Homo sapiens: one gene and its partner. The protein of the gene in region 1 interacts with the protein of each later gene in a pairwise test. Each region holds a gene or a part of one and is shown in the gene's direction. Other genes may lie near its edges.

Evidence for each region. The genes of interacting proteins can lie anywhere in the genome.
Region 2: the proteins of TXNDC12 (region 1) and DPF2 interact in binary tests that used the Homo sapiens proteins (3 or more experiments, as listed by UniProt).

Annotation. Positions count from the first base shown.
Region 1 is NC_000001.11:52,037,174-52,042,484, reverse strand, and holds part of TXNDC12 (thioredoxin domain-containing protein 12 precursor), read left to right. Parts: intron 1-887; coding exon 888-948; intron 949-5,311. UniProt on the Homo sapiens protein: Protein-disulfide reductase of the endoplasmic reticulum that promotes disulfide bond formation in client proteins through its thiol-disulfide oxidase activity.
Region 2 is NC_000011.10:65,336,852-65,340,768, forward strand, and holds part of DPF2 (zinc finger protein ubi-d4), read left to right. Parts: intron 1-3,533; coding exon 3,534-3,694; intron 3,695-3,917. UniProt on the Homo sapiens protein: Plays an active role in transcriptional regulation by binding modified histones H3 and H4. Is a negative regulator of myeloid differentiation of hematopoietic progenitor cells. Might also have a role in the development and maturation of lymphoid cells.

The DNA of each region.
Region 1 (5,311 bases):
TCTCAAAAAAAAAAAAAAAAGTGAAAGTATAGTATAGGGTGTATATATAAGATTTTAGGAAAAATGTGGAAAGTGAGGCTGGAGAGGTGGGCAGGTGCCATATTCTGAAAGGCTTTGTAAACCCTACTGCAAGAGTTGGACCTTTATCTTTAGGGCATTGGAAAGCCTTTGAAAGTTTTTTTGTTTTTGTTTTTTGTTTTTTTCCTGGAGTAACATGATTTAGAAAGACCATTCTGTGCTATTCTACAAAACATGTTCAAGAGTTTCAAAAAATAAAATAGGAAGATTACTCTGGGTGAATTGTGGGAATAATAATAACAATAGCTTTAAATACTTACTTCATTTAATCCTTATACTAACACTTGGAGGTAGGTCTTATTGTCTTGCTTTTACAGATGAAGGAGGAAAATAAGAAAGAAATTGGGACTTGGAGAGCTTACTTCACTCACAAGAATTCACACACGTAATAGGAAGTGGAGTCATGGACCTAGGTCTTTCTGAATCTAAAGCTGTATTGCTGAATCACCTTCAATTGGTTATGATTTGTTATGACCTGCTTTATGTTTACTCTGTGGGAAATTCTCGTTCATTCTTACAGTATTATTAGCATATTCCGTGATAGTTTACAAAGCATTTAACGTCATTTTTAAATTTAGCCTCCTTTGAAACTGTGAATTAGGTGGTGGTGTCTCCATTTTGCAGGTATGAAAACTGAGGCTTGAGGTATGGTCCCATACACCTAGAAGGTGGTGGAGCTGGGACTTGAACACCAAGCTCTTGACAGAAGAAAACCTTCTTAGTGGGTATCTTGTGAACATGCACACTTCCTTCTTGGGACTGTGCCCTTTGTTCATTATGTGAATGCTTATAAAGTTCTTTCCTTCCAGGTTTTGGAGATCATATTCATTGGAGGACACTGGAAGATGGGAAGAAAGAAGCAGCTGCCAGGTACAAGACATGGTTTTAGGTCATTTATGGTGGTAAAACACTTTTCAGCTATCAACTTAACGTTAATTTCAGGTGAAGGGCTATACCAAGGCAGAGCAAGAACTGAATAGTTGCCTAATTACAACAACAGCAATAATAATGGCTAACATTTATAGTTGAGCCTTGAACAACATGGGTTTTTTTTCTTTTTTTTTTTTTCTTTTTGAGATGGAGTCTCACTCTCTCGCCCAGGCTGGAGTGCAGTGGCACGATCTCGGCTCACTGCAAGCTCCACCTCCTGGGCTCACGCCATTCTCCTGCCTCAGCCTCCCGAGTAGCTGGGACTACAGGCACCCGCCACCACGCCTGGCTAATTTTTTTGTATTTTTAGTAGAGACGGGGTTTCACCGTGTTAGCCAGGATGGTCTCAATCTCCTGATCTCATGATCCACCCGCCTCGGCCTCCCAAAGTGCTGGGATTACAGGCGTGAGCCACCGCGCCCGGCCTTTTTTTTTCTTTTTTGAGACAGAGTCTTGCTTTGTCACCCAGGCGGGAGTGCAGTGGTGCGATCTTCATTCATTGCAACCTCCACCTCCCAGGTTCAAGCAATTCTTGTCAAGCCTCAGCCTCCCACGTAGCTGAGATTACAGGCATGTGCCACCATTGCCGGCTAATTTTTGTAGTTTTTAGTAGAGACGGGGTTTCACCATGTTGGCCAGGCTGGTCTTGAGCTCCCAACCTCAGGCGATCCACCTGCCTCGGCCTCCCAAAGTGCTGGGATTACAGATGTGAGCCACCACGCCCGGCCAAACAACATGGGTTTGAACTGCACAGGTCCACTTATATGTGGATTTTTTTCAGTAATAAATGCATTGGAAACTGTTTTGGAGATTTCAAGCAGTTTCAAAAAACTTGCAGATGAACAGCATAGCCTAGAAATATCAAAAAACTTAAAAAATTGGTATGTTACAAGTGTAAAAATATATGTAGGTATTAGTCTATATTATCATTTACTACCATAAAACATACAGAAATCTACAAGTTAAAATTTATCAAAACTTCTGCACACTGGCTGGGTGCGGTGGCTCATGCCTGTAATCCCAGCACTTTGGTAGGTTGAGGCGGGCAGATCACTTGAGCCCAGGAGGTTGAGACCAATCTGGGCAACATGGTGAAACCCCTTCTCTACAAAAAATACCAGTTACTTGAGGGGGCTGAGGTGGGAGGATCAATTGAGCCTGGGAGTTTGAGGCTGCAGTGAGCTAAGACCATGCCACTGTACTGCAGCCTGGAAACAGAGTGAGACCCTGTCTAAAAAGCTTCTGGCCAGGCATGGTGGCTCACGCTTGTAATCTCAGCACTTTGGGAGGCTGAGGCGGGCAGATTACCTGAGGTCGGGAGTTCAAGACCACCCTGGCCAACATGGTAAAACCCCGTCTCTACTAAAAATACAAAAATTACCTGGGCATGGTGGTGTGCACCTGTAGTCTCAGCTACTAGGGGAGGCTGAAGCAAGAGAATCACTTGAACCCGGGAGGTGGAGGTTGCAGTGCGCTGAGATTGCACCACTGTACTCCAGCCTGGGAGACAAAGCGAGACTCTGTCTTAAAAAACAAAAATAAAAAATAAAAATAAAAATAAAAAAATAAAAAACTTCTGCACACAAACACCTATAGACCACACATGCTGCCATTTGCAGAAGGGAGAAATGTAAACAAATGTAAAGATGCCATATTAAATCATAACTGCATAAAAATTAACTGTAGTATATAACATTACTAATAATTTTGTGGCCACCTCCTGTTGCTATGGAGGTGAACTCAAGTATTGTGAGTATCCACTTAAAATGCCGTGCAACATTAATCATCTTCAGTGAGCAGTACGTCTCTCCAGTGTATTGCGTATCGCAGTATAACGTAGTTTCTCAGCTGGGCGCGGTGGCTCACACCTGTAATCCCAGCACTTTAGGAGGCCGAGGTGGGTGGATCACTTGAGGTCAGGAGTTCGAGACCAGCCTAGCCAACATGGTGAAACCCTGTCTCTACTAAAAATACAAAAAACTTAGCTGGGCATGGTGGGCGCATGCCTGTAATCCCAGCTACTTGGGAGGCTGAGGCAGGAGAATCGCTTGAACCTGGGAGACGGAGTTGCAGTAAGCCAAGATCACGCCATTGCACTCCAGCCTGGGAGACAGAGCGAGACTTGGTCTCAAAAAAAAAAAAATTAATCTCTTACAACTCTTGCATATTTTTCCTGGTATTTAGTACAATATCATAAACCTAGAATAACACCATGAAACCCATACAAGGTGCCATTGGTGATGCTGGAAGTGTTCCCAAGAAGCAGAGAATGCTCATGACATTACAAGAAAAAATTGAATTGCTTGATATGTACTGTAGACTGAGGTCTACACAGGTAGTTGCTTGTCGTTTCAAGATAAATGAACCCTTTTTTTTTTTTTTTTTTTTGAGACGGTGTCTTGCTCTGGCCTGGCCAGATGAATCCATTTTGAGAGTCTGAGGCAGGAGGACTGATTGAGCCCAGTAGATTGAGACCAGCCTGGGCAACAAAGTAAGACCCTGTCTCTACAAAAAAAAATTTTTTTAAAGATAAATCCAGCGTAAGGACCAATTGCGTAAAAAAAAAAAAAAAACAGAAAAAGAAAAAAAAAAGAAAATTCATGAAGTTGTCACTGTAGCTATGCCAACAGGTGCAAAAACCTTGCACTTTTTGCCAAATGCCTTTTTATGTGCATAATATGTAGCTTTTACATGGGTACTATAAAAAGGCATACCTATTGACTCTAATATGATTTGAGAAAAAGCAAAGTCATTATATGGCAACTTAAAGCAAAAAGAAGGTGAAGGATCTAAAGCTGGAGTATTTAATGACAACAAATGATGGTTTGCTGATTTTAGAAAGAGGTTTGGCTTAAAAAATGTCAAGACAGGCTGGGCGCAGTGTTGCCCGTAATCCCAGCACTTTGGCAGTCCAAGGCGGGTGGATCATTTGAGGTCAAGAGTTTATGACCAGCCTGGCCAACATGGTGAAACCCCGTCTCTACAAAAAATACAAAAACTAGCTAGGTGGTAGTGGTCCATGCCTATAATCCCAGCTACTTGGGAGGCTGAGGCAGGAGAATCGCTTGAGCCTGGGAGGCGGAGGTTGCATGAGCCGAGATCCCCCCACTGCACTCCAGCCTGGGTGACAGAGTGAGACCCTGTCTCAAAAAAAAAAAAAACAAGATACAGGAGAAGCAGCTTATGCTGACCAAGAGGCAGCAGATGAATTCTCAGACACCGTTAAGAAAATCATTGAAGAGAAAGGATATCTGCCTGAACAGGTGTTTAATGCAGATTAAGGTACCCTACTCTGGAAAAAAAAAGCCACAAAGGACATTAATAGTAAGGAAGACCAACCTGGGCAACATGGGAAACTCTGTCTCTACAAAAAGTACAAAAATTAGCTGGGTGTGGTGGCACACACCTGTTGTTCCTGCTACTCAGGAGTCTGAGGTGGGAGGATTGCTTGAGCCTGGAAGATTGAGGCTGCAGTTAGCCATGAGTGCACCACTGAACTGTAGCCTGGGCAACAGAATAAGACCCTATTTCAGTTTTTAAAAAGGAAAAAAAAAAATAGGAAGAGAAGCAAGTACCAACATTGAAGGCAAGAAGAGACAGGCTAACTCTACTCTTTTGTGCAAAAAAACCCAGCACTTTGGGAGGCAGAGGTGGGACGATTACCAGAGCCCAGGAGTTTGAGTCAAGTTTGTCATCAGAACTGCCCTTGTCTATAAAGCTGTTAACCTCCAGCCTCGAAGAGCAAAGATAAACACCAGCTGCCAGTGTTTAGGTTGTGCAATAAGAAGGCTTAGACAACAAGAACCCTTTTTCTGGATTGGTTCCATCAATGCTTTGTCCCTGAAGTCAGGAAGTACCTTGCCAGTAAGAGACTACCTTTTAAAGTTCTTTTGATGTTGGACAATACTCTGGCCACCCAGAGCCCCATGAGTTCAGCACCAAAGGCAAATTAAAAAGTCTATTTGCGGCTGGGCCCAGTGGCTCATGCCTGTAATCCCAGCACTTGGGAGGCCGAGGTCGGGGGATCACCTGAAGTTGGGAGTTCCAGACCAGCCTGACCAACACGGAGAAACCCAGTCTCTACTAAAAATACAAAATTCGCCGGGCGTGGTGGCACATGCCTGTAATCCCAGCTAATCAGGAGGCTGAGGCAGGAGAATTGCTTGAACCTGGGAGGTGGAGGTTGCAGTGAGCTGAGATCGTGCCATTGCATTCCAGCCTAGGCAACAAGAGTGAAATTCTGTCTCAAAAAAAAAAAAAAAAAAAAAAGGTGGTCTATTTGCCTCCAAACACAATATTTAAA
Region 2 (3,917 bases), on another chromosome or scaffold:
AGGCTGAGGCGGGCGGATCACAAGGTCAGGAGTTTGAGACCAGCCTGGCCAAGGTGGTGAAACCCGTCTCTAGTAAAAATACAAAAATTAGCTGGGCATGGTGGCGTGCACCTGTAGTCCCAGCTACTCAGGAGGCTGAGGCAGAAGAATCGCTTGAACCCAGGAGAGATCACACCACTGCACTCCAGCCCAGGCGACAGAGCGAGACTCCGTCTCAAAAAAAGAGAGAAAGTCTTTAAGCGTTCTTACTAGGAAAGTAAAATAATAGTATAGCTGTAGCTGCTGATTGGTTTTGAAACTTTCTAGGCAAAATCTAGAGGCAGGGCGCGGTGGCTTACACCTGTAATCCCAGAACTTTGGAAGGCCGAGGTGGGCGGATCATGAGGTCAGGAGTTCGAGACCAGCTTGGCCAACATGGTGAAACCCTGTCTCTACTAAGAATACAAAAATTAGCTGGGCGTGGTGGCGCATGCCACTCGGGAGCCTGAGGCAAGAGAATCGTTGGAACCCGGGAGGCAGAAGCTGCAGTAGGCAGAAGCTGCAGTGAGCCGAGATTGCACCACTGCATTCTAACCTGGGCGGCAAAGCAAGACTCTATCTCAAAAAAAAAAAAAAAAAAAAAAATATATATATATATATATATATATATATATAGAGAGAGAGAGAGAGAGAGAGAGAGAGAGAGAGAGAGAGAGAACAATGTTAATGTTAACTTGACATTTCTTGGTATCGGAGCCTTAAGTTTTTGTTATTGCTTTTTTTTGTTTTAAGAGACAGAGCCTCCCTCTGTCCCCCAGGCTGAAGTGCAGTGGTATAACCTTGGTTTACTGCACCCTCAACTTCCTAGGCTCAAATGATTCCCCTACCTCATCCGCCCCAGGGGCTACGTGGAACCACAGGCATGCATCACTAAGCCTAGCTGATGGTTTTTTTGTTTGTTTGTTTTGTTTTTTTTAATTTTATTTTTTTTGAGACAGAGTTTCGCTCTTGTTGCCCAGGCTGGAGTGCAATGGCGCAATCTCGGCTCACCGCAACCTCCGCCTCCCAGGTTCAAGCAATTCTTCTGCCTCAGCCTCCCCCGTAGCTGGGATTATGGTCATGTACCACCACGCCCGGCTAATTTTGTATTTTTAGTAGAGACAGGGTTTCTCCATGTTGAGGCTGGTCTCGAACTCCTGACCTCAGGTGATCCGTCCACCTCAGTCTCCCAAAGTGCTGGGATTACAGGCGTGAGCCACTGCGCCAGGCCTTTTTTATTTTTATTTTTTAACGTTTTGTAGAGATGGGATCTCACTATGTTGCCCAAGCTGGTCTCTAACTCTTGGTCTCAAGAGATCCACCAGCCTTGGCCTCCCAAAGTGCTGGGATTATAAGCATGAGCTACTGTGCCCGGCCTCCCTTAAGTTCTTAAGAGCTCACTGTCATGCTGTCTTGTTCTCTCTTCATGAGATTCTCCCCCCACACTTCAGTGTTTCCTTCCCAGCCCTTTTACCCCCAAGACTGTTTGCCTGCCTTATGTAGCTCACAAGAGCCCTGACAGAACATCTCTCATTCATTCCCCGCAAAACTGTTTCCAGCCTCCTTGCTCTGACTTTGCAGCACTCGCCAGCCTGGCCCTGCCTTCCATTTGACTTCCAGTGTCCGTATCAATTCCCATCAGCAGAAACAAAGGAGCTGCCGCACTCAACCTTGTTTATCCAATTTTATTCTGTGTGGTGAAGACGTGGCTGCCTCCTAAAGGCGAGCCCACAGAGGCAAGGCTGCCTTCTCCATTCTGCTCTCCAACGTGAGATTCGTGCCTACCTCAGATTACAGTCATTACAGCTCATTGAATCACGCCAGGCTATATTTGTGGCATTGCCGTCTCTGTGTGTCGTATGTGTCTTTTTTACTTGCTGGGCACATGCTAAGTTATGCAGTGGTCTATTGTGGCTGCTCACTGAAGGACCCTGTCACATTCTAGAGCAGGGTTTGTTGGTGTAGCCCGAGTTACGGACAGAAACCACAGAGACTTAATCTGTTTGCTGTCTCATCCCCAGGCTGTTTCTTGTAAAATCCTGATATGTCAAAGCTCATTTGGTCCAACCTCCTCAATCTATAGAAGAGTAACCAAGGTCCACCTGGGCTGACTAAGTGTCCATGTTCGTGTGACTTGCAGGCAAGCCAGGTCTTTTTACTCTCAAGTCAAGTCTGACTGTATCTCAGACATCGTCATGAGTATTAGGGATACTATGAGAAATAAATCAATTCTGCCCTTGGTTTAAGATTGATTGACGCCAGGTACTGTGACACATGCCTCTATTCCCAGATACTTGGGAGGCTAAGGCAGGAGGATCACTTGAGCCAGGAGTTTGTGTCCAGCTTGGGCAACATAGTGAGACCTTGTCTCTTAAAAAAAAAAAAAAACAAGATTGATTGAATATAAGATCGAGTTTGTTAACCTCCATTACCAAAGTCCTTGTTAAACCCTGCAAGATGAGAACAAGATAGGTTCTATATACACGCTTCTTAGAACCAGATAACTCCTGGCACTGTGCAGTTTTCCAGTTTTCCACTTAAAGATTTACCCTTGATTCAGATTTCAAATTGAGTCTTTTGAGACCAAGAAGATTTTTTCCTATATAATTTTATTTTGTGAGAATGGAGAAGAACCCTAAGATGGGCCTTAGAGCAAACAAGTTTCTTATGAGTGATGGTGCTCAATAAAAGCTTCAAGGAACTTCAGGTACTTGTAGACATCTTCCATAAATGTAAAATTAATTAGTTGATTAAAAACCTAGTTCAAAATTCAAAAGATATAAAAAGGCATATGGAAGGAAGTGGCCTAGTCACCCACTTTTTCTCCCCGCTGACCTGCAGTTTCTTTTCCATTTTGTTACATAAATGATAGTTTTATTTGACGCTTCTCAGCAGTGTACCTTGCTTTGCTTTTTGTCCCTAGTTAACTTGAAATTGTTTAATATCAGTATGTGAAGAGCTTCCTTCTTATGGCTAAGTAGAATTTCATTGTATGGATTTACCATAGTTTGCTAAATACATTTTAATAAGTCCCCTAGACTTTGAACTCTTTCCCTCTGGAGCAGACCTTGGGGCAAGGATGTGGGAGCATGTAGTTTATTTGGGAGGTGATTCTAGGAAAGAGGGAATAAGGAGGAACTTAGGAGGGACTATCATCTGCTTCTTAGCCTCATAAGGGTTAAGAGAAATAGCATCTTAACTAGCACAGGGGTGGGCTTGTGAGACACGTGGAGTGAACATTCTTTCACCTCTTTGGGGGTTAAACTTAAGTCTGATTAGACATATGATGAAATCATGTGTTCCTGATGGTAATTTATTTGTAAAGTAATTCCTCATGATGGCCTAGAAAAGGGGCTTCGTGTCCCATGAGGCAGAAGTGGAGGCAAATAGAACGGAAGAGACAGCCACCCAGTCCCTTGAGCCTTCTAGAGAAGCAGATGGCAGGGGAGAGGAATAGCTCAGCACCCTATGCCCCCCGCTCCAACATACACGCCTGATTTCTATCTTCCCTGCAGCCTTGGGGAGCAGTACTACAAAGATGCCATGGAGCAGTGCCACAATTACAATGCTCGCCTCTGTGCTGAGCGCAGCGTGCGCCTGCCTTTCTTGGACTCACAGACCGGAGTAGCCCAGAGCAATTGTTACATCTGGATGGAAAAGCGACACCGGGGTCCAGGTGAGGGTCCAGACTTGGGAGAAGGGGACTCAGGAGCATAAGGAGGAAGAAGCCTCCTCATCTTAGGTGATGAGACAGTTGATAGGGTTTTCCCTACTGCCTTCCACCTATGGATGAATATGGTCTTCCTGTGATTAGAAACCCAGGGAGGATGAAGCAGATGTTTGATACCAGCATCTTTGTTTTCTGCCCTGCTGAGGCCATTGTGTGTCTGGAGAACTAT